Linked DNA regions of Homo sapiens. The protein of the gene in region 2 interacts with the protein of the main gene of each other region in a biochemical or structural test. Each region holds a gene or a part of one and is shown on either strand. Other genes may lie near its edges. The genes, in order: RBMS1, POLA1 and HELB.

What was found.
Region 1: the proteins of POLA1 (region 2) and RBMS1 form a complex in vitro, tested with the Homo sapiens proteins (one study listed by BioGRID).
Region 3: the proteins of POLA1 (region 2) and HELB form a complex in vitro, tested with the Homo sapiens proteins (one study listed by BioGRID).

Annotation. Positions count from the first base shown.
Region 1 is NC_000002.12:160,278,847-160,288,975, forward strand, and holds part of RBMS1 (RNA-binding motif, single-stranded-interacting protein 1), read right to left. Parts: intron 8,239-10,129; coding exon 8,123-8,238; intron 6,199-8,122; coding exon 6,149-6,198; intron 6,023-6,148; coding exon 5,929-6,022; intron 3,459-5,928; coding exon of another isoform or gene 3,411-3,458; intron 2,519-3,410; coding exon 2,468-2,518; intron 1-2,467.
Region 2 is NC_000023.11:24,686,980-24,698,040, reverse strand, and holds the start of POLA1 (DNA polymerase alpha catalytic subunit), read right to left. Parts: upstream 4,124-11,061; 5' UTR 4,080-4,123; coding exon 4,037-4,079; intron 1-4,036. UniProt on the Homo sapiens protein: Catalytic subunit of the DNA polymerase alpha complex (also known as the alpha DNA polymerase-primase complex) which plays an essential role in the initiation of DNA synthesis.
Region 3 is NC_000012.12:66,296,948-66,306,981, reverse strand, and holds the start of HELB (DNA helicase B), read right to left. Parts: upstream 4,490-10,034; 5' UTR 4,379-4,489; coding exon 4,192-4,378; intron 2,252-4,191; coding exon 1,832-2,251; intron 638-1,831; coding exon 468-637; intron 1-467.

The DNA.
Region 1 (10,129 bases), on a different chromosome or scaffold from region 2:
TTTTAAGAGCGTTAGGGGAAATGATATCTTGGCATTCACTTCACAACAATCCCTGTATTAAAGCCAGTGTCCCTCTTCTCCTTCCCTTTCCCTTCACTTCCAGTAACTGGAAGCAAGCTAGTCCAGCAGGAGGAGCTATCATAGGAAAAACAAACTGATTATCACTGCCTGCCTAGGGTTACAAAACGCTTTCTTAAAAAAAAATCTGGAAAAAAAAGGCAGTTGATGTTTTCTCCAGTCACCAAACAATGTATTATATTTAATAAGATCAATATAGTATTTTGTTTAACAATGTTCTATCCAGATAATCGTCTGGTTCAAGATCAGGTTGTTAGGATCAAGAGCACATTTCTTCATTCACTCAGTGTTTCTCAGAACTTTAAGTTACATTTTGGTGCCTGGGAGGGAAGGCAATTCAGATATGATTAATAATCTGAGTCCAGATTCTTTTATTTAATTTGAAAAAATGTTAGTCATTAAAATCAAATTAAATATATTTAGGAAAATAGGAGGGAAAAAAAAAACAATTGCTTCTAACTCAGCCAGTCTAATACAACCACTGTTAGCAATGTCAGGGTACTACTGCCAGATCATAGCCTCTGTGTGTTTCTGTACAGGTTCAATCAGAGCACATCAACAACTTCATATCCTGGGATTTTGCTCTTAACTTTGCATTCTATTCTAACCATTTACCTAGCTTGTTGAAAAACTATCATTATCATCATTTTTTTAAATGGTTACATTGATTGTATAAACCAAAATTCAATGAACTCTTTATTTTTGGACTTTTGCAATCACCTCATTATCTGAGAATGCAAGTATTCTGACACGCTCTGTAACTACTAATGTATGTTTTGTTATCACTGTACCTGGCATCCCTTAAATACAACTGTTATTTATTGATAATTAGATAGACAATCTAGGACAGAGTTAGGTGTACAGGAACTTTAATTCTGATGTAAATCAGGCAGTTTAAAGCTGGGTGGGGAAAGGTAATGAATCCTCAGATAGCAACCTTCTGCTTACATTCCTAATGTCTCCTCAAAGATGTTAAGCTCAGATACGTGCAGTCTTTTTCTCAAATGTTGCCAAAAAGAAAAAAAGATATAGATGTGTGTCAGAGATAATGTTTGTCATTAATACATTCTGTTAGAAATTTTTTTTTTAACATGCATCATCAAAAAGCAAGTGGTAACACGGAAATGACTCAGAAGCCTAGAAGATGGTGGAGCAGTTTCCTGCTCCTTTTTCTCATTCATTGGCACCATCTGTAATAGGAAGTCCTCAAATTCAAAGCAAGCTGATTTCCAAGCATTCCAAAATAGGGTAGCATGGAGTATCAGGGACACAGATTGCTATGGGCATGTGTGGATCAGTGCATGTATATTATGTACACATGTACAGGTAAGTGTGGGTTTGAAGATGTGTCTATGTATGTGCACATGTATAGATCTATATGTATGTGTATATATCACACAAAACGTATACATATATCAGAGCGCGCCTCTCCTATTTCATCACCTAAACATGTTTTATCTGCTTCTTAAAGGTCATCTCAGCAATTTCTCATTCAGAACCTGTTATCCCTGGATTGCTATTTCATATACATGGTCTTACATCGCAGTATCCACTTTAAAAGGTATCCGAAGACAAATTGCTGTCTGAACATAAGGCCAAGAATACAGTTCTTTTTCTAAGCAACCAAATCTGTTTTTATTTTACACATATTGTGAACTGTATTGCTTACCAGGATTCCCATTTTGCATCAGTTACTAGAAAGCTTAGAGCCAAATTTGTGATTTTCTCATGTGAGCATGCAGGGTCATTGTGTTGGACATCCTTAGCCTTATTGTAACTTTGTTCTCCATATGTATTTTTAAATTTTCAAACCCTTCTTCCACAAACTAGATCTTATGTGTCTTTGAAAAACACATGAAATACACTATATAATAAGTATAACTCATTCAATTTAAAAAAATGTAATATATATGAATGCTCACGTCATTAAGAAATCACATTTGTTATTTACCAAATAATGTGCTACCACTTTAGTATTTATAATCTCCATAGAAAGGCCAAGTAACACTGATGAAAATCTTCATCTCGGTTTTGAACTTTATATCTGCATTAAACAGAATGTAAAAAATGAGAGCGGTTTTATCCCAAGTACTATTAAAAATGTAGCCTCTCATTTGAATGATCTCTAAAGAGCTGGTATGAATAAGAAAATGGTGCCCTGCCTCAAATATGATATATTTTAAGTTCTTATAGAAAATGTAACTTAATATCTTCTACCAAGTTGTTTTATAAGGATGAGAAGAAGTTTTATAATGAAATTGTACATTCTCATATTCCATGTTTAAAATTTCCCAAATCCTATACCACCCTTGGCAAATGGTTTTAACCTAGAGAGAATATACACATAACTTACTTGTAAAACACAAAGTCATTAAGATAAAAAACTTACAGGGTGCTGTAGAATATATGGTTGAGGTTGCATCCACGAAGGACTTTGCACCTAGAAAAGGGAGGATTTTGAAAGAAATATTGATTTTCATTGTAAAGCTTACCTATTTCTTTAGAACTCTTTTTAATCATGTTAAAAATCTACAGAAAGAAAACAAGGAAACAATACTATCAATGATTAAAAAGATTAAGGCAGTTAGAATTCTTGGCAAACTGGTCACTCTGAACAGGATGAAATGATTATTTAGAAACAATTTCTATTTGCCCACTCAAGAAGTAATTGTTGAGTATCAGGCAACAAAGAGAAAAAGGCGAAACAGACTGGGCCCCACCCTCAAGAAATTTACTATCTATGCAAGGGAGATAAACACAGCAACAACTCAAATAGTGAAAAGTGTTAACAATCAAGGTATGAACTAGGTGCTTTAGAATTACAGATGAATGACGATTAATTCCAGCACATCTTATTAGAAGCTAACCCTTAAAGTATGTGCTTATTTAATACAAAAAACCAAATTCAATTTCTCTTTCATATCTAGGACATTAATTTTAGAAATCTTGTATTGTGGTCAACAATTTCTACTTAGTGCAGAAAATAAAAATCTGAAATTCAGATTAAGGAAATTAAACTTCAGTAACTAGATTTTGACATCTACAGTCAAATGGGCATCCACACAGTAGACCCTCTGAATTGAGAAATAGATGTGAGAGTCAGGTTTTGTGGCAGGAAAGAAAGCATGTGTAGTCTGCCACTCAAGAGAAAAACATATCAGCCCATTTCTTGATGCCCAGAGCTTTCCAGAGTCTAAGTAATTTTATTAAGTTTCAGTTTCCAATTCTTAACAACAAAACCCTCCTGCATTTTATCCCCTATTGTTAACTTCAGAGGTTCAACAGAGAGGATATGGGGAAGAGTCATGGGGGAAGAATGTATTGCGATTTACCTTGATAGCAGAGCCCCGATACTTGTTTTCTCTGGTTTCCTTTGCCACCTAAGGCAGACCAAAGTTAAGTGCTTCTGCCTTGTTAACATTTCAGTTATCTGGACTGTAGCCTTTCCCCATTGGGGTTGGTGGTTTCTTGCAGCTGCCAATTTCTCAAATCCAATTGCATAAGCTTATGGTGGTTTAGTGGAGAAAGGCCCACTCCAACATGAGTGCAGGGCCCTCACTGGATATATGATGGGAAGGCAAACAACTCCCTACAGACCCTAATTTGGGCCAGATGCCCCCATTTTTTATATGCTTCAGTGGTCTTAATAATCTAATAGCTTATAGCATTACAGGATTAGGGAACTATGACATCTAATTTTCTTTCTTAAGCAGCAAATCAGCTGCTGTCAATTTCTATTCCTCAATTTTCTAATTATAAAATGGGAATAATAATGTTTTGTAAACTCTTTACTATTGGTTCTTAACCTCTTTAGGGTCATGGAGCCCTCTGAAAACCTAATTAGGGAAATAGAACATTTTTCCCCACTTAATTGCACACACACAAGCAACATTTTGCAAACAACTTAAGGAGTCACAGATCACTTAAAGCTCATCCACTGACCCTACTAGGTCCCTGAACTTATGTAGTTAAAAATCAGTCTTTGAGGCTATGGCACCGAGTGTCAGGCAATGCAATGAAATTCCATATGTATCTTAGAGAAATACAGAATGCCCAGGAGAGGAAATAAGGCCTCTGAAATAATATGTTATTTCTAGTTAGCTATATCAAATCTATTACTGACACAGATCTCCTAATTTTTATTGTACAAAATGGTTCTGTGGCCAAATGCACACTGGTTTTATATTATAAGAGGGAAAAAGAGGTGTTGGAGAAATGTGTTAATAGCTGTAATATCTATAGCAACATAAATTCAAATTAATACTTACAACCTTTCATTTGCCTGAGAATAACTTACACTTGCCCCTATTTTCAGTGACATATAAATGACAGAGGTTTCCAAGTTCAGACAGTTAAGAAAGACTACCTTTTCATAGCAGACACATGAATTGTTAATTAGGGAAGTGCACTAGAGCAGATCTCACTGAGTCTTATACAGTCAAAGAAAGGATAGGAATCCTAAATCCAAAACAACTAAAGAGGCATTAAATTAGTCAATACTACGCCCAGCAGAATGAAGCACCAGAATAAGTAACATAAGAACCCAGAGAGAAAAAAGAAAAGAAAACGAGTGACAACTCAGGGAAAGGAGGCTGTAAGAGCCTAGAAGCATAGGAGACTGTGAATGATAATGCCAATCCTCAGTTTTAGCGTATCTAATCACTTCTGTTATTCAAAACCATTTTTATGTTTTTAGGCAGAATTAGTTATATGACATTGCTTATGTTGGCCAATTCATTATTTAAACGTATAACTAATATACTCTTATTATCAGCCACCTAATCATGCATATTAATGATAATAATCATAGCTAACATTAACTGAGTGATAATGATATGTGAGGTCCTTGGCTGGGCTCTTTATACAGTCTCATTTGGTTTTCATAATTCTCTCAAGCCTATGAGATAGAAACTATTATTATCCCCATTTTAAAGATGAGGAAACTGAGGCTTATAGAAGTTAAAATAACACAACTATTAGATTACATATTGTAGTCCTCTAACCCCAGAAATTAGGACTACAACATCTAATTCAATTGTTTTAAAATCAAGAATACACAAAAATTTAGTCACACAGGATCCTGATGGTCAACAAAAGGGAACTCTGCTCCCACATGTCTGCAACTGAACTCCATTATAAGGTTCCTATCTGGGTCCAGGAAGTAATCCTGTTAGAGGTTTTCTGACACAGGAGGAGAAATGCATGTACACTACTGGGTTCATGGCGGACAGGAGCTACCTTTGCATTAAAATCAAATCAAATCTTGAAATACAAGACATTTCAAGAGTTTTTGTTGCTAAGTTGGGAATTTATTTTAAGGTAAAGCCTCCTCACTTAACCTAAACAGGAAGTCACCTTTTTGCTTTTATATTTTTACCTCAAATGTCAGCTGCATTGCTCACTTAATGCTACCTACTAGAGACACATCTTTATGTATTACCATGTTTATACTTGTTCTTTTATCAGTTCCTGCTGAAGAATAAACAAAAGCAAGGGTACACACCTATTCTGTATTATATCTAACGGCAATTATCTTAAGTTTCAATTTTTGGGACACATGGTGTCCAAAAGCAGGGCCCCTTGGTGAAGGAAGTGTTTGGGTTCATTCCAATCCAAAATGCTATGATTCCAAGGACTGACCACTGACAAACATTTTCCTTTGCTTTACATTCTCCTATACATAAATTGCTCTGCCAAATACAAAGCAGCTCATACTAAATTGGGTATCCAAGCTGCATAATATTTGACTCAAATTTCATAAACGCTCAAAATTTTAAGACACATAAAAATGTAGCAGAGATTCATGGTCCGCAAGTGGTTATACTGCTGACGAATCCTAAAGGTACAAACCTGGTAGGCAGATACAGGAGATGCAATATAGGGTGTAATAGAAGTTTGAGTGATCATTCGGTTTGTAGCAATACTGTATGGTGAAGGATAAAATCTAGAACAAACACAAAAGCCTTTATTAAGTAATCCTTTAAATAGAATAATTCATGGAACAAATGTCTGATATTTTCCACCTTCACATTTTCCCTCAAGCCATTATGGATTTATTTTAACGACATACCCGTTCTGTATAGCAGCTGTAGTTGGGTCGTAAGTAAGTGTCATTCCAGCCTATGGGAAAGAGAAAGAAATATAAACATTCATCTAGAAAGGCATGATTTAAAAATTCTATTTTTAGCCAGGTGTGGTGGTGTGCACCTGTAGTCCCAGCTGCTGGGGAGGCTGAGGTGGGAAGATCCTTTTGAAGCCCAGGAGTTCGAGGCTGTAGTTAGCTATGATTACATCACTGCACTCCAGCCTGGGCAACAGAAGGAGACCCCTGTCTCTTAAAAAAAAAGGGGAGGGAGGGGAATTTGTACTTAGAGTCTAGTAGCATTTGATAAAATTGGGAGTTTCTGTTAGTCAAAATGACTATAAATATGAAAATTAATCTCTGGACCTGCACTGTCCCATGTGATAGTCATAAGCCACATGCAGCTATTTAAAACTACATAAAAAATCAATCTCTCTAGCATACTAGCTACGTTTCAAGTGCTCAGAGAGCCACCTGTGGCTGGTGGCTGTTATTGGACAGTGCAGATTCTAGAACATTTTCCCTAGACATTCTTGGATCAATATGTTATTGTTTTTAAAATAATAATTCATGGAAAGTCAATACAGGGAAATGGACGTCCAACATTTTATTACGAAATTGAGAGTTTTAATTAAAAAAAAAACTATTCAAAAGAGAGGTGAAAAAAACCCCAACTCAGTGATAAATGTACTATTTATATATAAATATTTAGATTACTATTTAGGATAACTTCTAAATATTATAAATATAAACCCCTCTAAGAAACCATGCTAGCCTGGGCAACATAGTTAGATCCTATCTCTATAAAAATTTTAAAAAATTAGGCCGAGCACGATGGTTCACGCCTGTAATCCCAGCACTTTGGGAGGCTGAGGTGGGTGGATCATGAGGCCAGGAGATTGAGACCATCCCGACTAACACGGTGAAACCCCATCTCTAGTAAAAATACAAAAAATTAGCCGCGCATGGTGGTGGGTGCCTGTAGTCCCAGCTACTTGGGAGGCTGAGGCAGGAGAATGGCATGAACCCAGGAGGCAGAGCTTGCAGTGAGCGGAGATCGTGCCACTGCCCTCCAGCCTGAGCGACAGAGCAAGACTCCATCTCAAAAATAAAAAATAAATAAAAAAATAAAAATTTTTAAAAATTAGCCAGGAGTGGTGGCATGTCCCTGTCGTCTCAGCTACATAGGAGGCTGAGGTGGGAGGACTGCTTGAGCACAGGAGTTCAAGGTTGTGGTAGGCTATAACCACACCACTGGACTCCAGCCTGGGCAACAGAGACCATGTTTCTTCCTTTCTTTTTTTTTTTTTTTTATTTTGTTTTTTTTTTTTGAGATGGAGTCTCGCTCTGTTGCCCAGGCTGGAGTGCAGTGGCATGATCTTGGAACACTGCAGCCTCTGCCTCCCGGGCTGCAGCGATTCTCCTGCCTCAGCCTCCCAGGTAGCTGGGATTACAGGCATGGACCACCACGCAGGGCTAATTTTTGTATTTTTAGTAGAGACGGGGTTTCGCCATGTTGGCCAGGCTGATCTCTAACTCCTGATCTCAGGTGATCTGCCTGCCTTGGCCTCCCAAAGTGCTAGGATTATAGGTGTGAGCCACCGCGCCTAGCCTACAGAAACCCTGTTTCTGAAAAAAACCAAAAACAAACCCAAATCACTTGTGTTTTTCTTATGGCAATTTAGAATGCTCTTTTACTTCATGTGTAGCTAGCTGGTAAACACAGCTGCTTCCACCACCTATCGGTCCATCTGGAGAATCACTCTGTTATCACCATATATAATGAAAAGAATTTTAATTTGGCATCACTTGAATTATAATGTACCGAAAGGAAGATTTAATCCTGGCACCTATTTCAGAAGTGTGCAGCCAAGTCAAGATGCCTTTTTGTGTTACTTTTCATGTGGGCATTCAAGATCACACCCCCTCCCCCACCCCGCAAAGTTTCAAGAAAGGACTTACAAGTCTCACCTCTCCTTCTCTATGCCATGGTCTTCCATTAGGGATGTATTTGTTTGGGTTCTGTCTCTTTTTCTGTCCTCCATCAGCAAACTTACACAATAAAGGTTCTGTGGGGGCTAAGTAAACAGAGAAAAATAAAATGAAACCACAATGATACGTGTATGTGGATGACAAAATGTATTACAAAAATAGGAATAGTGTTCACGCTATTAGAAAATTCATACAACACTTTAAGGCAAAAGCAGTTTACTCAGACCTTTGTAAAACTGTCCACGATGAAAAACATAGTGCAGAAAAACATACTAGTTATTATTTCTGAACATTTAAATAACTATTCTGAGGAAGCAAAGGAATCTTTCGATTCACTTTCACACTTAAGAGTAGACACATTTCTTTTGGTTTTGGGCCCTCTCCAATTCCACCTCTGGACCGTCACCAAAATAATCTTCAAATTCAATAGGATTGTGCCATCCTCCCCTCCCCCAACTTAAAATGGTCCCTTAGCGTCCCATTATAATTCCTAAGAGGGACCCTTCACTTCTCCCAGTAGAAAACAAGCCACCTCTACACTGCTCGCACATATATTTTTATTCACAATTTGTAACAATTGGTGAGTATGTTTACTTGCTTGGTGTCTGTTTCCCCTTCTAGGCTATACGCCCCATGGGGGCAGTAACATTGTCTGTTTTGTCTATCACTGTATCCCCAGTGCCTAAGTGTCTGGACTTTGTAGTTGCTTATTACATCTTGGTTGCATCAGTGAATGAATAGAAATAGGTCTCATATGTTTATTTTTGGGATACGTCAGTGAAGATGGCTGTTGTGAGAAAGCTAAAAATACTTGTCCACCCTATTTAAAGGTTTTTCTGTGCCTTTAATCATACAACTGGGTATTGCTTTACTATATATCTATATACCACTATATATAGATCTGTATATTATTACTATATTACTTATAATATATATTACTATATACCTATACATTTATATAAATTCTTCTTACAGAATCCATGAGGCCAAAACAGAAAAGCAGAAGATGTAGAGAATATTTTCAAAGATATATACTCATTAGAGTTAAAAAAAAAAAAAAGTCTACAGACAGCACAATAGGGCACCAGTAACTTTTCCTTTTCTTTGCTTTTCTGCAATGGAAATAGCAGTGTATTCCAGAAAGTTGTGCATTTTTCTGTGTTTCTAGTTAATGTAATAAAGGCAATCACACCTTCCTGTCTGGTTCCCACATTCTGTCCTTTGTCTACTGTAGAACCATGATTACTACTTTCAAGTTCTGTTTCAAAGTTAAATAACCACGAAGAGAAAAATATTACTTGTGGAAAATTTACTCCTTTCTCCTGTGCCTCTTATTATCCTAATTCATCTCTTATTTTATTTCATGATTACCCACCCACTAATGACAGGGTGGAAGCAGTAGTGTCTTTCAACACTTCTCTGCCAAAAAACAAAACAAAAGAAAACAAAAAGCCCAACTGTAACTCCTTCTGGGTGAGCTGTCTGGGCTGCTGCCTGGCACTCCTTTCTTCTTTCCCTGGTGTGAACCACTCTGGAGGGATGGGTTGGAATGCCAACTCACTTCTGAATGACAACTGGACTATGGGTATGACGAGTCAGGAACAAAAATGTTAGGTGTCTGGTGAGACTATCAGCAAGCCTTGGCCCAGATCTAGAGAGGTTTATCCACTGACATTTGAGGTTGTAAGATGTTGACTCCACATAATCTCGTAGAGCAAGAGAGAAGATAATAAATTTGGTGGTGCTGGTACATAGTGGGTCTTCTCTAAAACGAGGTGCTTTTATCTAGAGGGTTTATGAAAACTAGGTCCTAGACTGAAATTTAACCTTTTTTTTGTTTTTTTTAAAGAAGTTACTTGGCTCAGCAAGTGATCCCAACTGGCCGTTTTTCTCTATTAGCATAATTTCTTTCAGAGACAGTAAATGATCAGGTTGGACTCATTCTAGAAGTTCAGTGCAGGCCACCTAAACAGGCAG
Region 2 (11,061 bases):
AAACCCAGGAGATGGAGGTTGCAGTGAGCCGAGATTGCACCACTGCACTCCAGCCTGGGTGACAGAGCGAGACTCTATCTCAAAAAAAAAAAAAAAAATTCATCCACAGAATTAAAGACTTTCACATACCCACTGATGAAAAACTAAGTCAAGCATAACAGTGCTGCCTGTCAACTACGAGTTTAGGCTCAGCATGATTGCCATCTATGTCTGTGAAATCTAGTATTTTACTGTGTTTGGTGCTAATTAATTTATAAAAAGGAGCAGGCAAAGAAAAGAAGTATGGATAAGAGGCAGCCTAAAACTCCAACCCCACTAGAATGTTCATAACAACATTAAGCTGCTTGACTAAGTGTTTGACTGAAATAGAAGATACAATTTAAAGAACATGTACCAAATGCTGGCAATAAACTGCTGGAAACTATAGCCTAAAGGTAAGGCATAATTAGAGATCTTATTTTTTTCTAGCTTTCTAGAAATGGAATCTCTCTTTATAATATCACACTCTATTGTTTGACTTTCACATTTGACTTTTAAATCCATTTTCAGAAAGACATTAAGTAAAAATTAAGGAATAAAGGTACTTAATGATGACAGCCACAAAAACTTGGATGTCACTCAAATGATTTCAAAAATCGTGAACAGGCCTACATGAAAAGGCTTTGAAGATTACTGAACATGACCCCTGAAAGTGAAAAGCGATTCCCCTCAAGACTCCCTTGATGCCTGACATCTGTAGGTCTTCAAATGCACTTACTCCATAGGCAACAATGTTCCACTACACAGGCAACAATGTTCCACTACACAGGCAACGTCCCACTACACAGGCAACAATGTTCCACTACACAGGGTTTAGGGTACAATCACAAATAAGACAGAGCTGCCTGTCCAAAAGAGGCCCCCAGTCAAGTAAAGCAAAGTACCTGAAATTACCATCACAATATAAACATGGTGCCATAGAAAAGGTAAGAACTCAGTACTGAGGAAATGTACAGAGGAGAGAGCTGTTAATTTTGCCTGGAAAATCAAGGAAGGCTTCACAGGAGAGGTTTCCAATACAGGCCTAGAAAAAGGAGTCAAATTTCACAGAGAACAAAGTAAAAAGTGGCACAAGCAAAAGAAGAGGCATGAGCCAAATTACAAAGGGATGAAAATGCATAGTGTATTCAGAAACTGAGAGAACTCAGTGTGCAAGGTAAATTCGACAAGGGAGTGTAGAGTGAGTAGGAGAACCAGGTTAGGGAGAAGCAGCACATTCCAGCTCTGCCATTTACTGGGTGACATGAGAACACCGGTTAACCAGTTAAGCAGCAGACAGGTGTCTTGTTATTTAAAGCAGCCTAGCATCTGAAACTGTTTGTGAAATCCGGCCCCCATCCCTTATAAGTCTTGATGAGACGCAGAGCCTATGCCCCATTACAGAAGCTGAAAAGGTTGATGCTCTTTCCCAGACACCCTTGCAGCCTAGAGCATGGGCATATAAAATAGGCGCTACCGATTAGGAACACCTGCTCAGACATTAAATCAGAAGCTAGTGTCACAAGGAAGGGGGCATGGGTTTTAAAAGATTCTACAAGTAGCAACAGCTGCAGAAGGATTACAAAACCGGCAACAATGTCAGCAATGTCCTAAGGTATGAGCTATAGCATCAAGTACTTGCTCGTGGTTGGCAATGACCTCCTCACTGGCCCATTTTTGTGGCACAATTTCACTCACTGTTCCTGGCTAAACAGCTCCCAGACTGGCTTACTAGTCCTCCTGGAGTTTCTGTGAACACAATATTCTTCTAACAAATTCTAACCAATCTGGTAGAGTTGGTTCCTGCAGCTTACAGATAGGGGCTCTGACTGATGCAGAGCCTCAGGGTCCACATCTGTGAAATGGGGATAATCATGTCTGCTTCAAAATCTGTTAAGGATTACATGAAGATGCCTATCTTACTTTGCACTTAGCAATATAGGAGCGGCTCATGTAACGCTTCCGCGTGTGAAGTCAAACACACATCCACATACCCCACACACACCATACCTAAGAGTACCAAGGTCTAGCTTTAGAAGGCAAAAACAAAGCAAAGCCGTTTTCTGCATATGATTAGATGTTTACCATCTGTACTTCATGAAGACAAACCATGTCCAGCCTACCCACCATCATAATGCCAGAGCCTGGCAGAAGGCTTATACCTAGTAGGTATATAATAAATATTTGCTGAATGAACCAATGAATGAACCACTGTACCTGCTTTTTTGATCATTAAACTTTCCCTGGCCGGGCGCAGTGGCTCATGCCTGTAATCTCATCACTTTGGGAGGAAGAGACAGGTGGATCACCTGACATCAGGAGTTCAAGACCAGCCTGGCCAACATGGTGAAACCCTGTCTCTACTGAAAATACAAAAAATTAGCCGGTGTGGTGGTGGGCACCTGTAATCCCAGCAACTCGGGAGGCTGAGGCAGAACTGCTTGAACCCAGGAGGCAGAGGTTGCAGCCAGCTGAGATCACGTCACTGCACTCCAGTCTGGGCAACAAGAGGGAAGCTTTGTCTCAAAAATAAATAAATAAATAAAAATTCCCTGATCTTTTTTCATATATAGTAACAGCTAGTTACAGACCTTTCAACTTTTCACTGCCATTATCAAGGTGCCCTGCCTGCTAATACTGAAGAAAAAAAAAAGCCTACATTTTGTTTTTTGGAGTATGTCTCCAATGCTTCACGTAGGTAACTTAGCAAAAAAAGAATAAGCATGAAAAAAATCCAGCTACAAAGGTTTAAATATTTGTTTCAAAATTACCATCTGGAGTATCTCTATCCTCCCCAAAAGCAGACAGACACTAGCTTACAGCAGTCTTTCAGGTAACAATCCTTCAGTCTGCTCTAAAGGAAAAATTCCAGTCACAAGTCCCCAGCAACTACTTAATGAACACCATGACCTAAGAGGAGTCTCAAGATTGCACAGTATCCTCCAAAGTGATTTCCTGATGTTCATAGATGACGTAGTTTTTAGGATGAAGAAAGGGCTTAGTGGCAAATCACTGATAGAGGCCTGCAAAGACTGTTCGTTCACATACTTACACCCAACATCCTATCTGTAATCCAGGCAGGTCGACTCTCCAAAATAGTCTTAAAAAACGAACGGCTAGAACAAATTGAAATCTGTGACTCACAACTAGGTGAATGCAAAGGAAGCTGATTAGGAAGCGAGTTCTCATTAATGGTGATGTATCTGAATGACAGGAGAGGTGACGCTTGAGCTAACAAAGTGAAGCATCTGATTTTAAGTTAGAAGTTAACTGAAGTCACGCTTTAGTTGAACACTTAAAAAATCAGACAAATCTATTTGCATTTTTGTATTCTATTTTTGGAAATAAAAGACACCCCTGACAAACGGAGTGATATACAGGGGATCCGAAATGCCCTAAATTGATGCCATTTTTTTGAAACTTCACCAGGAATGACTAGATTGTGAACAGGATTTCTACGCAGCACTTGAAGAACTTTCCAAAGAATCTGAAAGAAAAATTGTTAATGCATAAAGTAGAAACCCATTACCTAAAAATACAAAACGCGTTATTCCCCGATGACAGCACTTAGAGCTTTCTTTCCTGCTTAGTTACAATGTATAAAATTTTCCTGGAAGTTCCTACAAAAAGGGACACAGATCTGTTCTGTTCAAGCCTTCAAGTGGATACTTAGGGAGATCGCAGTGAAATACTTTCGGCCCCACGGGGCCAGTCTCAATAAAGTTATACCCAGCACGTGGGTGCAACTCACCAAAAGAAATAGAAACGCAATCGACTGTGGAGACTCTCAGTGGCAGAGGTGAGACAGCCTCCCAAACAAAAATCCCTCCAGGCTCTGGTCCTCCAAGAGCAAACCGCGCCTAAAGGAAGCCCGGTCCGACGCCAGAAGGGCCCCCGCCGGGGACGACCAAGGTCTGCGCCCAAACAAACCCGGGTGTGCGCCTCCCTCAGAACCCCCACCACCGGCAATCATGCCACTGTCCCAACCCGGAGCCCCGCGCGCGGAATTGTCCCTCACCACTCGCCCCTATCTCACAGTCGTCGCCGTGCACAGGTGCCATGGTCCCGAATCTCCCGATTCCGCGCCAACCAGCCCAAAACTGGCGCGGGGGCCGAGACAGGCGCCAGCCTGAAAGCCAATCAGCGGCTCGGGAGGCTGCGGACTTCCGGCCGGAAGGCCACTGACGTGCCGCGCCGCGCCGCGCTCCGCCCCCGGCCTTCCCGCGGACGCGCGTTTGGCGCCCTGTGATGACCCCTTAGGGAAAAGCTAGAGCTGAGGGGAAGCCGGAGGAGAGCAGGAGAAAGAAGCGGTCGGGCGCTGGAAAGGAGCCGCCTGGAGACTGCGCAAGCGCACGCATGCTGATGGGAAAAGATTTGGGCGCGTGGGAGAAAGGGCGCTCTGGTTCTCAGAGCCCATTTTCCCGGAAAGGAGGCGCGGGCGGGCAGGAGAGTGGGCGTGGTTGGATCGTTTTCCCCAGAGCCGGGAAAGCGACTGCCTCCTGCTGCGCGCCCTGAATTTTGCCTGATAGTTTGCTTCTCAGCAGTCTGGATACAGTGGCTGTGTGATTAACAACTTAAAGATATATGCTCCGTCTTAACCAAATAACCAGAAGTAGCATTACCAATAAATGGCCATCTGATCTCATATGCCTCCTGATGTAATGCGTATGAAAAAGGAAAAACTTCGCCTATATGGTCTTCTTGCAAAAAATGTCTAACCTGAATCTAACCATGAAGAAACAATCAGATGTATTCAAAATGTAGGACAATCTACAAAACACCTGACGTGAACTCCAAAATTTCAATGTTATGAAAAACAAAAAGGGTATTCAATTTTTGTGTATGATACAATGGCTGTAATGTGTACATCTCATGTTATCTCTTTCCAAAAAGGTATAACATTTTTATTAAATAATGCCTGCCACACATTTGTATTTTTTCCTACATTATTGCCCACATGCTTATTGATCCCTTCTTCATGTGACAACAATTTTGTAATATTTTCTCCAAAGAGGATATAAAGATAATTCAATCTGTCTTCTAGCATGGTTGATCAATACTTGTTTCTTAATTTCTGATTGTTTAGAAAATGTCTTTCAGCTTCATAATCATTTAATATCATGTTATGTGATCCATATGTTGTGATACATAACATGTAGTAATTTACACTTAGACATAACTTCCTATTTAAAGTACTACGACAGATTTATTCCTACACTTCCCTTTTAAAAACTGATGGAAGTTTTATAGTTTTATTATCAAGCTTTTTCCAACCAGGAGAGAACCATGTTGGCTAGTCATTAATAAGAACCAAATCCTTACCTTAACAATTTCACAGCTGATTACTTCCCACATGCCCGGGTATAACTCTAGGCATTTCAAACCTCTTTTCTCTTTCACTACTGCTGTGGTCTGAATGTTTCTCTCCACATAAAATGTATGCGTTGAAACCTAATCACCAGTGTGGTGGTGTTAGGAGGTAGGGCCTCTGGGAGGTGATTAGGTCATCAGCAGGAACCCTCCCTCATGAATAGGATTAGTGCCCTCGGAAAAGAGGCTCCAGAGAGCTGCCTTGCCCCTTCTTCCATGTGAGAACAGAGCAATAAGGCACCATCTATGGACCAAAAAGTGGGCCTACCCCAAACACTGAATCTGCCGGCACCTTGATCTTGGAATTCCCAGCCTACAGCACTGTGAAAAATAAATTCCTGTTGTTTATTAGCCACCCAGTTTGTGGTATTTTGTTATAGCAGCCTGAACAGACTGAGACAATGACCCACATACTTTGTGGGAAAAGACCTGTAGGACACTTTCTCTTTTTGAGATGGAGTCTCGCTCTGTCATCCAGGCTGGAATGCAGTGGCACCATCTCGGCTCACTGCAACCTCCACCTCCCAGGTTCAAGCGACTCTACTGCCTCAGCCTCCCGAGTAGCTGGGATTACAGGCGCCCGCCACCACACCTGGCTAATTTTTGTATTTTTAGTAGAGATGGGGTTTCACCATGTTGTCCAGGCTGGTCTTGAACTCCTGACCTCAGGTGATCCACTCATCTCAGCCTCCCAAAGTGCTGGGATTACAGGTGTGAGCCACCATGCCAGGCCAGACACTTTCATACCATGATATGTCTTCTGGCCCTACACTTTCAGTTCAAAACTCCTGGTAAGTCATCACACTGGGGTAGAAATATTCCTGGAAGCTATTCCTACACCAAGAAGTCTATGAATAACAGCCCGGCGCTGTGGCTCACGCCAGTAATCCCAGCACTTTGGCAGGCCGAAGCTGACAGATCATGAGGTCAGGAGTTCAAGACCAACCTGACCAATATGATGAAACCCCATCTCTACCAAAAATACAAAAATTAGCCGGGTGTGGTGACAGGCGCCTGTAGTCCCAGCTACTTGGGAGGCTGAGGCAGAAGAATAGCTTGAACCCGGGAGGCAGAGGTTGCAGTGAGCCGAGATTGTGCCAGTGCACTCCAGCCTGGGTGACAGAGTGAGACTCTGTCTCAAAAAAAAAAAAAAGTCTATCAATAACTTAAGTATATATGGCTTAAGTATATATGTGGGTTAAGTGCCTTCGACCCACATAAATAGAAGAAATAAGCCCAAACTAAATGCAATATCAACTCCATTTCCCCATAGTGGAATCCCAAAATGCCTATGCCTATTTCACTGCTACTATGCAAGAAGCGAAGTGTATCAGAGGGACAGTTGGAGGTTCTCAAGAGCTGATTGTTAAATATTCCAGTATTTTGTAATCTCCATGTTAAACTGTTGGTAGCTTGAAATCAGTCATGGTGGGAATATTTACACCCTGGAAATTGGCAAGTGGTACAAATCAGAGCTTTTTATTTTTTTAAGGTTTACCAGCAAACCACCAAGTGGAAAGTAGTCATATCTGATTGCAGCTAAAATATCTTACTTTTGTAGATCTACCATTTGATCCAGCAATCCCACTCCTGGGTATCTACCCAGAGGAAAAGAAGTCATTATACATGATAGATACTTGCACGCGCATGTTTACAGCAGCACAATTTATAATTGCAAATATATGGAACCAGCCCAAATGCCCATTAATCAACAAGTAGGTTAAAAAAAGTGAGATATGTGTATATATACATATGTGTGTGTGTATATATCTCACACACACACACACACACACACACACACACACACACACCATGGAATACTACTCAGCAGTAAAAAGGAATGAAATAAAGACATTCGCAGCAACCTGGATGGAATTGGAGACCATTATTCTAAGTGAAGTAACTCAGGAATGGAAAGCCAAACATTGTGTGTTACTCGTAAGTGGGAACTAAGCTACAAGTATCCGAAGGCATACGAATGATACAATGGACTCATTGTATCATAAGAATGATACAATGGGGACTCTGGGAAAGGTGAGAAGGAGGTGAGGGATAAAAGACTACACATTGGGTACAGTGTACACTGCTCAGGTGATAGGTGCAACAAAATCTCAGAAATCACCACTAAAGAACTCATTCACATAAACAATTAATTAAGTAATAATATTAATAAAAAGGATTGGGGTAGATTAGATGGGAATGAAGGAGGGAGCCAGGGTTGTTTTAGAATAAATGGAGCAAATAAATATGACAAATACTATCTTAAAATAAACAAATAAATAAAATGAAATATCTTACTTTTGCAAATGTTTACAAAAACATAAAACCATTGCTAGAACATCTCCCAGAGCCTTGCAAGTGGCCAATATGCAAATGAGAGGCCCTGGAGATTAAGTTTCAGCAGCTTTACTGTAAACCTACCTCTGTTATCTAATCATGCAAAAAAATCATAATTTGTCTTAAACTTCCTCTCTCCTGTCCAGGACCAGTTTTGCAAGTTTAAAGGTTTTTTTTTAACTTATAAACAAAGTAAAGCAAACTGAGACTGAGATACTATGTTCCACCATTTTCCCCCTTTTTATCTGTACATTTCTCTATATATAAATGTTATCCATTGCTGGTAAGCTTACAGTGTTGAGGCACAACTCATTTATTACAGGTGGCAGTGTAAGTTGGCACAATCTTTTGGAAAATAATATTGCAATATGTGACAAGTACCGTAAACATACTTGTATCTTTCAACCCTTTATTTCCACAGGTAAAAGTTTAATAAGAAATAATAGAAACAAAAAATGCAAAGACGTTAATGGCTGCTGTTTTCCATTAGCAAAAAGTTGGGACCTAAAAGTCCACATCATAACAAAGGTTTAATGTTGTGACATCAAAAAGATAAAATGATTAGAAAGACTCAAAATATGAAAAATGTTTATGATATTTCAGAAAGTGAAAACCACAGAGGGCAAAGTGATACATACCCACACTTATTTGCAATGATATATCAAACAGTTATTTACCTGAAAGCAATATGCAAAATGGAGTATATTTTGCCAGGATGATAGAATTATAGACTCTTTTTGTTTATAATTTGTCCTCTTTAATATTATATTGGAAGGATTAAAGACTCAGGTAGAGTCAGACTTAGGGTTTGATTCTTAGACTTCTACTTTTATGTGAATCACCACACTGTCTTCCACAATGGTGGAACTAATTTACAGCCATAAAAAAGAAACCAGGTGCAGTGGCTCACGCCTGTATTCCAAACACTTTGGGAGGCCACTCTGGGTGGGCAGATCACCTGAGGTCAGGAGTTCGAGATCAGCCTGGCCAACATGGCAAAACCCCATCTCTACTAAAAATACAAAAATTAGCCAGGCATGGTGGCGGGCACCTATAATCCTAGCTACTCAGGAGGCTGAACCAGGAGAGTCACTTCAACCCAGGAGGCAGAGGTTGCAGTGAGCCGAGATCGCACCACTGCACTCCAGCCTGGGCGACAGAGCACGACTCTGTCTCAAAAAAAAAAAAAAAAAAAAGAATGAGATCACGTCTGCAGCAACATGGATGGAGTTGGAAGCCATTATCCTAAGCGAACTAACATAGGAACAGAAAACCAAATACCACATGTTCTCACTTATAAGTGGGAGGTAAACATTGAGTACAAATGGACACAAAGAAGGGAACAACAGTTACTGGCACCAACTGAGGGTGGGGTGTGGTAGAGGGTGAGGATCAAAAACTACCTATGAAGTACTATGCTTATTACCTGGATGATGAAATAATCTGTACACCAAGCCCCCGTGACATGCTACTTACCCATATAACAAATCTGCACATGTACCTGAACCTAAAAGTTAAAAAAAAAAAAAAAAAGTATTCTGGTAGATCTGAAAGGGGACTCTTTTTTGCCTTTCTGCTTTTTCTCTTTTCTCTTTCTTCCTGCAACACAGATGTGATGGTTTAAGCTCCAGCAGCCGTCTTGTATCACGAGATAACTGTGGAAATGAAAGTCCCCACAGTGAGATGGTGGAACAGAATAAGAGCCTGGGTCCCTAACATCCATTAAGTCACCATACCATCCCTGAGCTGTCTACCCCCAGACTTCTACATGAGAGAAAAGTAAACATCTGTCATATTTAAAGCCACTGTTTTTTATTTTTTCTATTGTATTCAGTAGACCTAATTCTATAAATTATACTTTATTTATGAAGAAATGGAAACTCAAAAAGTAAGTAGCAGATGGAGATCAAGCCTCTTATTTGTCTAACTCCAAAGCAGGAACTTTTTTTTTCCATTGTCTGTCTCTGATGAATGAGTATTGTATCTTTTTTTTTTTTTTTTTTGAGACAGAGTCTTGCTCTGTTGCCCAGGCTGGAGTGCAGTGGTGCGATTTCGGCTCACTGCAGCCTCTGCCTCCCAGGTTCAAGCAATTCTCCTGTCTTAGCCTCCCAAGTAGGTGGGATTACAGGCGTGCACCACCATGCCTGGCTAATTTTTTTTGTATTTTTAGTAGAGATGGGGTTTCACCATGGTGGCGAGGCTGGTCTCGAACTCCTGACCTCAGATGATCCACCCGCCTCAGCCTCCCAAAGTGCTGGGATTACAGGCGTGAGCCACCACGCCTGACCTAAATGAGTATCTTCTCTCAATAGCAGTAACAGTTAAACACATGAAAACGTTGACGAAAATCATTCATTTAACAAATGTTTATTGAGTGCCTACTATTTTCTGGCACTATTCAAGGCCCTAGGGATAAGACAGTGAGCAAAAACAACTTCCCTTGCAATGATTTTCTACTCGTCAAGCAATCTTGCTTCTGGTAAACTAGATTTTTTTTCCCCTAAACTGGGGGAAAACCAGCCAACTGGATTATATTCTGGCACATCTGCCAGGTGTATTTCTCATGGCAAAGCAGTAAAGTAGCACTCTGGTTTCAATATCCATGTGCGTTTGTTAGCATGAATCTGGCCTTTGAGCCTGATTGTCTGTGGGTATGAAGATCGGCTTTGTGGCCATCCAAAGATTCTGAGCCCAACGAGGTAGTGTTGTTTATATGTAGCTGTGGAGAGAGGATTGTCTGCTAGCTGAAAAGAGGCCAGCAGTGAGAGGGCCTGGATATGCTCTCAGCATCCCACAAAGATTCTGGGTAATAAGAGAAGACACGCAACTCTCCTGAAACTCAAGAGACCATCTCTGGGTGTCCTAAGGAAATCCAGTCAATACCCACAACACTGAAGACAGGACCTTGGACCCTGGGACCGAGGAGGGTAACCCAAAGAAGCTTTCCCTAGAACCAGCCAGCACTTGGCACTCCCAGACCCCAATCTCACAGACACACCTTCCCTACTCAGGGGACCTCCTTATGAGGATTGACCTTCAAAAATACATCTCTGGGCTGTGCGTGGCAGCTCACATCTGTAATCCCAGCAATTTGAGAAGCCGAGGCCGGTGGATCACCTGAAGTCAGGAGTTTGAGACTAGCCTGGCCAACCTGGTGAAACCCTGTCTCTACTAAAAATACAAAAATTAGCTGAGCGTGGTGGCACACACCCCAGCTACTGGGGAGGCTGAGGCAGGAAAATTGCTTGAACCCAGGAGGTGGAGGTTGCAGTGAGCCGAGATCGCACCACTGTACTCCAGCCTGGGCGACAGAGCAAGACTCCATCTCAAAAATAA
Region 3 (10,034 bases), on a different chromosome or scaffold from region 2:
TAAAAATCAAATGACACCATGATATACCACATGAATAATGAAAATTGTCAATAGTTCAAACTGGAAGTGGGAAATTGAGTTGCACAGCAGAATGGACTTGCCAAATTTGTAAGAGCTGTTGACCTCAATAAGATTCAAGCTGCAAATGACAATTTAGTTACAGGACATTTGTCACATTAAATTACATAACTAAATTAATACCCATAATTTGAATGTCATCAATTTTTTTTCATTTACAAATTTATGCAACTTTACAAGTTGCATAACAACTTATAAAATGTTCTTATGCTATAGCTTCTTATGCTATAGCCATAAGAAGTTTATGTACAGTTGCAACATTTGAATAAAAATAAATCAATACTGGGGTCCACACAAATTTTTTTCCTTTGAAAGAGAAAGGAAAATTGCCAAATCTGAAACCATGCCTTACACAAGATTACTATATGCTGAGCAAATGTTTTACTTACTTTACTAAATCCAAGTTTCCACGGATGTGTACCTAAAATCTCTTCTATCTCTTTCAACATCTCTTTAGAACCTGACCCTATGATCCATTTAAAGTGTCGAGGCAGAAGAACTGGAAGGAATTCCATTATCTTCGGAAACTGCAAAGCTGTCATTACATTTCTAAATGGAACTACAAGATATCAGAAAGGAACAAAGTAAAACATAAATGAACCCAAAGAATGACTGATTTGAAGTACTTTCTCATTTTGCACAACCGATTCAAGAAACCCAAGTCAAAAACAGATTAGTACACTTGCTTTAACCAGTAAGAAAATTTTGATCATATTATGACAATTGCTTTTGTACTGAGATGGTTTTCATTGTGTTTAACACCAAAATTTATGTTCTTTAAATGCTTAAATAATGATTTCTTAGCCTTTTGTTTCCTACTGCCTGCACTATAACAGAATAAAAATTCTGACTCAATTATATAAAGATAAATTTAAAGCTAAGGATATAAAATAATTTACATAGTAACCTTCATAATCATTTTCTATAATCATAATCTTTTGTCATTGAAATCATTCATTGATGTACCATCAAATTTATTTGATACAATTAGGAAATGAAATATTCCATATATATGAATATCCAGATAACAAATCATATTAAAAATTACTTGAAACCATTTTGGACTGAAGTATTTCCTAAATGTATTATTCACATCCTTGTCGTTCTTCTCTACCTCTTTAAACAGAATCATTTACAACTGATTTTTTTTTTTTTTTAACTGAGACGGTGTCTCACTCTCACCTAGGCTGGAGTACAGTGGTGCAATCATGGCTCACTGCAGCCTCCATTTCCTAGGCTCAAGTGATCCTCCTGCCTCATCCTCCCAAGTAGCTGGGACTACAGGTATATATCACCACACCTGGCTAATTTTTAAAAAATTTTTTGTAGAGACAAGGTCTCACTACATTGCTCAGGCTAGTCTCGATCTCCTGCGCTCAAGTGATCCTCCTGCCTCAGTCTCCCAAAGTGGGATTACAGACGTGAGCAGCTACCACACCTGGCCAGCAACTGAATTTTTTTTTATTAATGATTCAAGGTAATCGCTGTGAATACAAAAGTTAGAAAGAGAGATTAAAATCACAGTTTTAGAGGTGGAAAGGAACTGGAAGATTTTAAAGATCAGCTCATATAATCCCTTCATGCTACAGATGAGAAACCTGAAATGTCAATGGCATACTCCAAAAGCAACATAAACACATTTTTCACCAAATGGATTTTTAAAAAGAATACTATGCTAGTGGTAACATTTTAAACACTGTAGTTATTAAGTATGTCAATTACACTGAAAGTTGATGATAAAAATCACACTTACTTGTGTTTTCCAGAGGAAGACTCATCTCATTGTCTAGGAACAACTCTTCCTGACCATTCTGTGTAGGCTGCTTTTGATCTTTCCTTCCAGTTTCCTTGTGGAAAGTTCTTAGTGTTTCCCTAAGATTTTCAAAGTTTAGGTTTTTGTAGTTTGATACCTCCTTTACCCATGTTAAAAATTTATTAACATCATCACTGGAGACCTCACACTCTTTAAGAAAGAGAGCACAGATATGTTTTTGATTTGGTGGTGACATATCAGACTGCAAAAAGTAAGACGGAAATCCTTGAACTTGATATTGATAGCTCCTTGATCCCACCACAGGCTTTACTTGTACCTTCACTCTCCACCAAGCACCTGTTATCGGAAAACGTCCAAACACTTTACATGTCTCTTGTGTGTTTTCATCACAAATAGAAACTAAAAAAAAACAAACAAAAACCCACAAAAGTTAACTCTGGAGATTATTTAGAAACCGTTTCCTCAAAGTTTCATCAAACTTACCACTATCTTTAATCTCCCTACAGCACTCTCTAAAGATGTCTGGTAGGGTGCCTGTAACACTGCATTCTGCCTACCTCTTTTTCTGTCTCCCTCCACTACACTGTAAATACTAAAACAGGACACTGTTTCGTTTGTCTTTGTATTCCAAAACGCAAGCACAGTACACAGCAGGTGTCTGCTGTTCCTCTTCTAAAATCAGTCCCCTCTCTGCTACTCTTGACTTCAGCCAATACTGGCCTTCATGCAGTTTCTTTAAAATGCCATGGCCCTTCACTCAAGTTATTCCATCTGCCTTAACTGATCTCCCCTTTACTGTTTACTACATTTACTACAGACCTCAGCTTAACTATCACTTACTTAGAAAAGTCTTCCCTGAATCTCATGTATAAAACCTCTCAAAGCACTATTTAGCATTCCTTCTAAGCATTTAGTAACATTATAGTTACTTCTGTGATTAAAGAATGTTTGTTTAATACACTAGAGGGTAAGCTTCATTAAGACTGCAACCTTGTTATTTTATTTCTCTAGGTTTTCCCAGCACCAAACATGCTAGCCAGTTGATGATACTTTAGAATGACGACTAAGCCCTCCACAAATACTTGAAACTTTTCTGCCTAAATCTGCGCTGTCCACCCACGTGGCTATTTAAATTAAAATGTAATAAAACTTAAAATTTCTCTCCTCAGTTACACTAGCTGGATTTCAAGTTCTAAACAGCTACATATGGCTAGTGGCTATTATACCAGACAGTGCAGATATAAAACACTGCCATGATCATGGAAAGTTCTACTGAACAGCACCGGTCGGCACATTAAAATATTTTAAGTCTCAGTCACAAAGTATACATAACAGGTATAACTTATAGCACAGGAAACTACCTCATAGCACAGGAAACTACTTATACAAGGTTTACCCGAACCACAAGGTTACTAACACCAATTAACAATCATCTGTGCACTGAGGTGTTCCTTGTGTTTCGTTTTTCTTTTTCTTTTCTTTCCTTTTCGTTTTTTGAGATGGAGTTTCATTCTTGTTGCCCAGGCCGGAGTGCAATGGTGTGATCTCAGCTCACTGCAACCCCCACCTCCTGGGTTCAAGCAATTCTCCTGCCTCGGCCTCCCAAGTAGCTAGGATTACAGGTGTGCGACATCACGCCCGGCTAATTTTGTAGTTTTGTTGTTGTTGTTGTTGTTTTACTAGAGACAGGTTTCACCATGTTGGTCAGGCTGGTCTCGAACTCCTGACCTCAAGTGATCCACCTGCCTCGGCCTCCCAAAGTGCGTGAGCCACCGCGCCCGGACTGTTTTGTTTTTCCAAGAAGCTGAGGAAGAACCACGTATTTGACTCCAGGCAATATAGGATAATAATTACAAGTTCTCATTCTATAGAACTTGAGGATAAGTGGTCAGAAGGAAAAATAAAAGTTCCGATTCTGGGTGGAAATAGAGACTCAACATCCACTGTTTCCTTAAGCGTAAAACTACCTTACATTAAAGGTACATTAAATTAAAGGACGACCATTAAAATGAGAATAATTTTAAAAAAAAAAAAAAAAAAAAAGGGCAACCCGCTCGGGTCCCCTTCCACACTGTAGAAGCTTTGTTCTTTCGCTCTTTGCAATAAATCTTGCTGCTGCTCAAAAAAAGAAAAAAAAAAAAAAACCACATAGTATGTGTCCAGTTAAAGTCACTGCTATTATTATAGTCATAATTTTACCCTTGGTAGGATGAAGCAGCTAGACCACTGATAAGCTAAATCTGTTAGCACGACTGGGTGCCTTGCTCAGGGCAAAGCCAGAATGGGAAGCGCTACTTTGGACCCTCCAACCCCATCCCCCGGGCAGACGCCTTCCTCACCGCGGAGGCACCCGGGGAGGCTGCCAGCCTTTACGCCCCCACTGCAGAGCTCCTCGGCGTCGATGAACACGGACTCTTCATCCTCCTCCACGTCGTCGTTTAGGTAGTCGTCGTCCTCCTCCACCAGATCCCTGGGTGGGAGCAGAGGTCCCTGAAGTTGGCGCAGGTACGGACTCGACCTGGCCATGCTTCTCCTGAACTCAACCCAAACAACTCGGGAAAACCCTGGCTAACTGCATGGTCATGATCAGCCAATCAGTTCTACGACTGTAAGGCCATCAACTTCCGGGAACGGCCTGGCGGCCGCCAGCGTACATAAAACCTGAAAGGCAGCGAAGCTCCGCCCCAAGTTTCCAGGAATTGCCGAGGGGAGGGCATGTGGAAGGGGCGGGGCAAGGCGGGTTAGGGGCGGGGAAGGGAGAGCGAGGGGCTGGGAGATGGGCGGGGCTTCCGCTCCTTTTGGAGCCTGGTGCTGGGCGGTGATTATCAGGAAGGTGCTGGGACGAAATCAGCGCTGGGGAGTGACAGGCGTGGCACCTGCAGAACCGCCAGTGCACGGCATCTCCTGCGGAGAGAGAACGGGGAGAAAGTCCACTTCTGCTGAGCTTGAAGAACCTGGAAAAGCAACCCCCACCCCAACCTTCCCAAAACGAAAGTATAGCAGATGCCCTTCTGGAATCGGATCTAGGGCAGGGACCTAGAATTCTGTCTTTTTAATGTACATTCCGGGCTGTCCATTTTGATGCTCAGCTAGGTTTGGACACCACTGGATTAGATAACATTCAAAGTTATTTTTATCCTTTCCTCTGTGAGTACACCCTGGTCTCCCAAACTTATTTAAGCTGGGCTGCTACCTGCTGACAGTGGGGCAAAAGTGTCTCTTTGCAGCCCAGAGTATAGACAGGAATAGGAGAAGGGAAATAGAAGAGAAAGGAACGTGGTTTTAAAAACTATTATGGGGCTATGATTCTCTTACTTGATGAGGATGGTACTTGAAAGTCTTGGTACTATTTAAGAAATACCATAAATATATTACTACATTACTGTATTGATACTGTTTATTTTGGGATTATTCCTGAAATAACTAAACACACACTATTTACTAAATCCAAAAGCACCTGATGCTATATTTAAATATATATAAACGACAACTAGCACCAAATATTTAAGAAAAATGTATAGGAGAAAATATAAAAATTGATTTCTTTTCCTTTGGGTACCAATTGAAAAATGCCCACTTTTGTTGCTTTTAAAAGAAATACTGTTGCAGCTGACAAAACACCAGTGTTTCCAAGGATTGGCTATATGAGGTTGAATTCCTTTGACATTCACATGGCTACTGTTTCCACCACAACATTGAATCTCCTCTGACAAATGTCACACTTACTGTCCTCTTCGTTTCAAAAACCAGTGGATACTTTTCAGCCTTTGTTTTACCTGACCTCTCAGCAGTATTTGATACTGATAAGTATTTTCTTCTTGTAGCATTCTGCTGCCGGGGCTTTTGCAGCTTGCCTTCTCAGATTTTTCTCCTTTCTGGCTATTTACAGTCTTGGACCCCTCTGCTTGCCTGTAAGTACTGTTATTCCCCAAGGCTCCATCCCAAGCATCTTCTTGCTCTATAATCCTTTCCTCAATCATCCTTCACCTACATGCTAATGACTCAGCCTAATCTGATCTCCAAACCATACAAACAACTGCCTAAACACTGTCAGTCACTACTGGATGCCCCTTGGCTACTTAAGACTCAGCATATCTAAACTGCAACTTATCATTGGCTTCCCAAATCTGGGTCACTTATGAGTATATACATGGGATATTCTTGTTACCAACATGATGACTTGGGCACAAGAATCAACTCTAGATCTCTAGATGTTAAACTTTTTTTTCTTTCTCTCTTTTTTTTTGGGGGGTGGGGGGACAAGGTCTCATTGTGTTGCTCAAGCTGGTCTTGAACTCCTAAAGTCAAGTGATCCTCCTGCCTCAGTCTACCAAGGTGCTAGGATTACAGATGTGAGCCACTACACAGCACAGGTGTTCAACTCCTCCTCCCTTTTTTTTTTTTTTTTTTTTGGTACAGGTCTATAGTGGCACCATCTCAGCTCACTGAGGCCTTGACCTCCCAGCAGGCTCAAGTGATCGTCCCATATCAGCCTCTCAAGTAGCTGGGACCACAGGCTCACACCACTAAGCCCGGCTAATTTTTTGCAATTTTTTGTAGAAACAGGGTTTCGCCATGGTGTCCAGACTGGTGTCGAACTCCTGAACTCAAGTAATCTGCCGGCCTCGGCCTCCCAAAGTGCTGGGATTACAGGCGTGAGCCATTGCACCTGGTCACTATATGTTCAGCTTCTATTCATATAGTTCAATTGCATTTTATTGGATAGTGTAGATAGGAATTTAGGATGATAAGAATCTTACTTCTTTACCTATTGTTTTCTCATTCTTTTAAAAAAAAAGTTAACAATTCTGGCTTTCTGGATACCATCTTTACCATACATAGTAAGCAGTGGTACTCAAATCTGGCTGTGCATCAAAATCACTTGGGATGTGTTCTAAAATTGAGATACCTGGATCTACCCTGAAGCTACACTTCCCAAAACAAAAAACAACATAGACATAGGTTATCTACTGTGTGATTTTTGTAATAGCAAATTATTGGAAATAGCAGAGATGTTGAACAGCAAGAGACTAATGAAATAAACTGTAGTACATCCACACAATGGAGTATTCTTCAGCTATTTTTTTTATAAAAAGAAAGAAAGATTGCCACAAATTGGTAGGGAGTAGTTTCCAAGATACTGTTTTAAATTAGAGAAAGCAAGATGTAAAACAATGCATATCATTTTATTTGTATGTGTCAGTGTTACGAAAAAAAAAAAAATCACATGAAAGATAAACCACAAGTTAATGAAAATAGCCAGGAATGGTGGCTCGTGCCTCTAATTCCAGCACTTTGAGAGGCCAGGGTAGGAGGATTGCTTGAGCCCAGGAGTTTCAGACCAGGTTGGGCAAAATAGCAAGACCTTGTCTCAAAAAAATAAATAAATTAGCCAGACACAGTGGCGTGTGCCTGTAGTCCAGCTACCCTGGAGGCTGATGTGAGAGGATTGCATGAGCCCAGGAGGTTGAGGCTGCAGTGAGCCAGAAGAAGGTGAAGGAGGAGAAGGAGGAGGAGGAGGGGGAGGTGGAGGGGGAAGAAATTGATGAAAATAGTTACCCACAGAGGAGATGGAAACATGATAGGACAGAAAGGGGATACGGACAAGAGCTCTGAGATTAATTTATTATGTAGTTTGACTTCTGAATCATGTAAATGTTGTACACATTCAAAAAATAAAAGAAACAAAAGCAAAACAGAAAATTGAACACAAACAGAAACAAACAAATCTATCAAGTGAATTGCATAACCACTAAGAGAAAATAATCATTTCAAGTTATGTTTCAATACTTTGGGTAAATATTTTAAGTTATTCTAACTGTACACCCCTGGTAGGTTATACTCTGCAGACAAAAGATCTAAAAAATGATCTTAAACTTCACTCATTATGGTTAATGTTTGTTGTAATATTGTTAGTGTAATTTTGAAATTATATATTGTAGGATAAAGAAAATAAGTAAATGTATTCATATTTTATTAAAAGTTTTAAATGTACATGGAAAGAAATACAAATGTAAAATAAAATAAGTTGAAAAAAGCTCCTACAACATTAAACTGGAATTGAAAATATCAATATGGGCTTGTGATTTCTTAAAATGTATTATCTAGTTCTGTGTGCCAAAAGAACCTGAAAGCAATGTAACCCCAGTAACTCTGATCACACCCACCATCTCAATTTTCTGTTTGTTTGTTTGTTAGACAGGGTTGTGCTAGAATTCAGTCTCACAATCATAGCTCACTGTGACCTTGAACTCCTGGCCTCAAGTGATCTTTCTGCCTCCCCCTGCCCAAAGTGCTGAGATTACAGGCCACTGCACCCAGCCTAATCTTGGTTTTTTAATCTGGGTGACTTTTTGTTTTCAAAAGCAAGGACCAGCCGGGTGTGGTGGCTCACGCGTGTAATCCCAGCACTTTGGGAGGCCGAGGTGGGCAGATGATTTGAGATCAGGAGTTCGAAACCAGTCTGGCTAACATGGAAACCCTGTCTCTACTAGAAAGATAAAAATTAGCCGGGCAAGGTGGTGCGTGCCTGTAATTCCAGCTACTTGGGAGGCTAAGGCAGGACAATTGCTTGAACTGGGGATGTGGAGGTTGCAGTGAGGCAAGATGGTGTCACTGCAATGAAAAAAAAAAAAGGAAAATTATAGTATCAAAAGGAATAGTGACTGCACTTGATTATAACATGCTGAGTAAATAAAAATTCACATGTTAATTGTGATAGTTAAAAAAAGAGAGAGAGAAATGCCAGTTAATAAGAATTTTTAAGAAGAAATTATAAAAATAGAAACCAGCATTTTCCAACCCCCTAAAGTAACGACTGATTCAAGCAAGTATCACCAAAGGATATGAACATCACTGGGGAACTGATAGTCTCCTGGCAGTAATAGATTACGAATTGCAAAGGGAAAAGTGTACCTATACAGTGAAGATACTTGTCACTCACCCTTTAATCAAGTTATCAAACACAGTGTCAATAATGGGACACAATTGATGTGTATTTCATGCTATGACGCAATAAGATATACATAAAATTAGCTATTAAGTATTCTTACCAAAAGTATTTAACCTGATTTTAATCAAGGCTCTAGACCAGTACTGTTCAATAGAGATATATATCATATGACCACATATGTAATTTAAAAGTTTCTAGTGGCCACATTGAAAAAAGAAATAGGTGACATTTTAATGATGCATTTTATTTAATCCAAAATATCCAAAATAGTATTTCAACATGGTAATCAATATAAAAATTATTAACAAAATATTTTACATTCTTTTTTTTTTATCCTAAGTCTTTAAAATCTGGTCTGTATTTTACCCTTACTGCACACTTCGATTTGAACTAGTCATATTTCAAGGACTCGAAATCCATGTGTCTAGTGACTACCATATTAGACAGCACAGTTGTAGACCGAATTTCCAATTTGCCCCAAATCCAAGGAAGTGAGGTACCAACTGAATGATACCATAAGGAAACAGAAAGATCTAGAACAGAGGTGACAAAACTTCATTTTGCAAAGGGACAGATAGTAAATATTTCAGGCTTTGCATGCTATATATGGTCTCCATCACATAATACTCCTCCACCTCCTCCTTCCTTCTCTTCTCCCTCTTCTTTTTTTATAACCCTTTAAATATGTAAAGACTATTCTTAGCTCTACGGCTGTACAAAAACAGGCTGTAGTTTTCCCACACCGGATCTAGAATATGGGACATTCTACAAGACAACTGACCTGGATATTCCAAAACATCAATGTCATAGAGAAAAAATTGGGGATTCCAGGATTGCTGGTGGCCAGTCAGTGAAGTTGAAGTTGAAGGTATAAGGAATGGGTGTGAGATGAGGCTGGTAGGAAGTGGGTGGCAGCCAGAACTTGCAGTGTTTCAGGAGGCCACGGCAAGGTCAGCAAGATGCCACTAGAGGTTTTAAACAGAAGCTTAACCATTCTTTTCTGAAAACGTGGCTATTCATCTCCCATAAACTAAACTTTCATTGCAATGTCCCCTTGAAAGTTATCCTAGGAAATTGTTATTAAATAAATCAATTAATCTGAATCATGAAGCAATACCTTTCAGTATCTCATACATAATGCTTCTCACTTGGAAGATTTTTTTCCTGTGTTACATAATGTGTTTTCTAGTCATGTCAGAAATATATTTGTTTTAATGTGCCTGGCTGGCA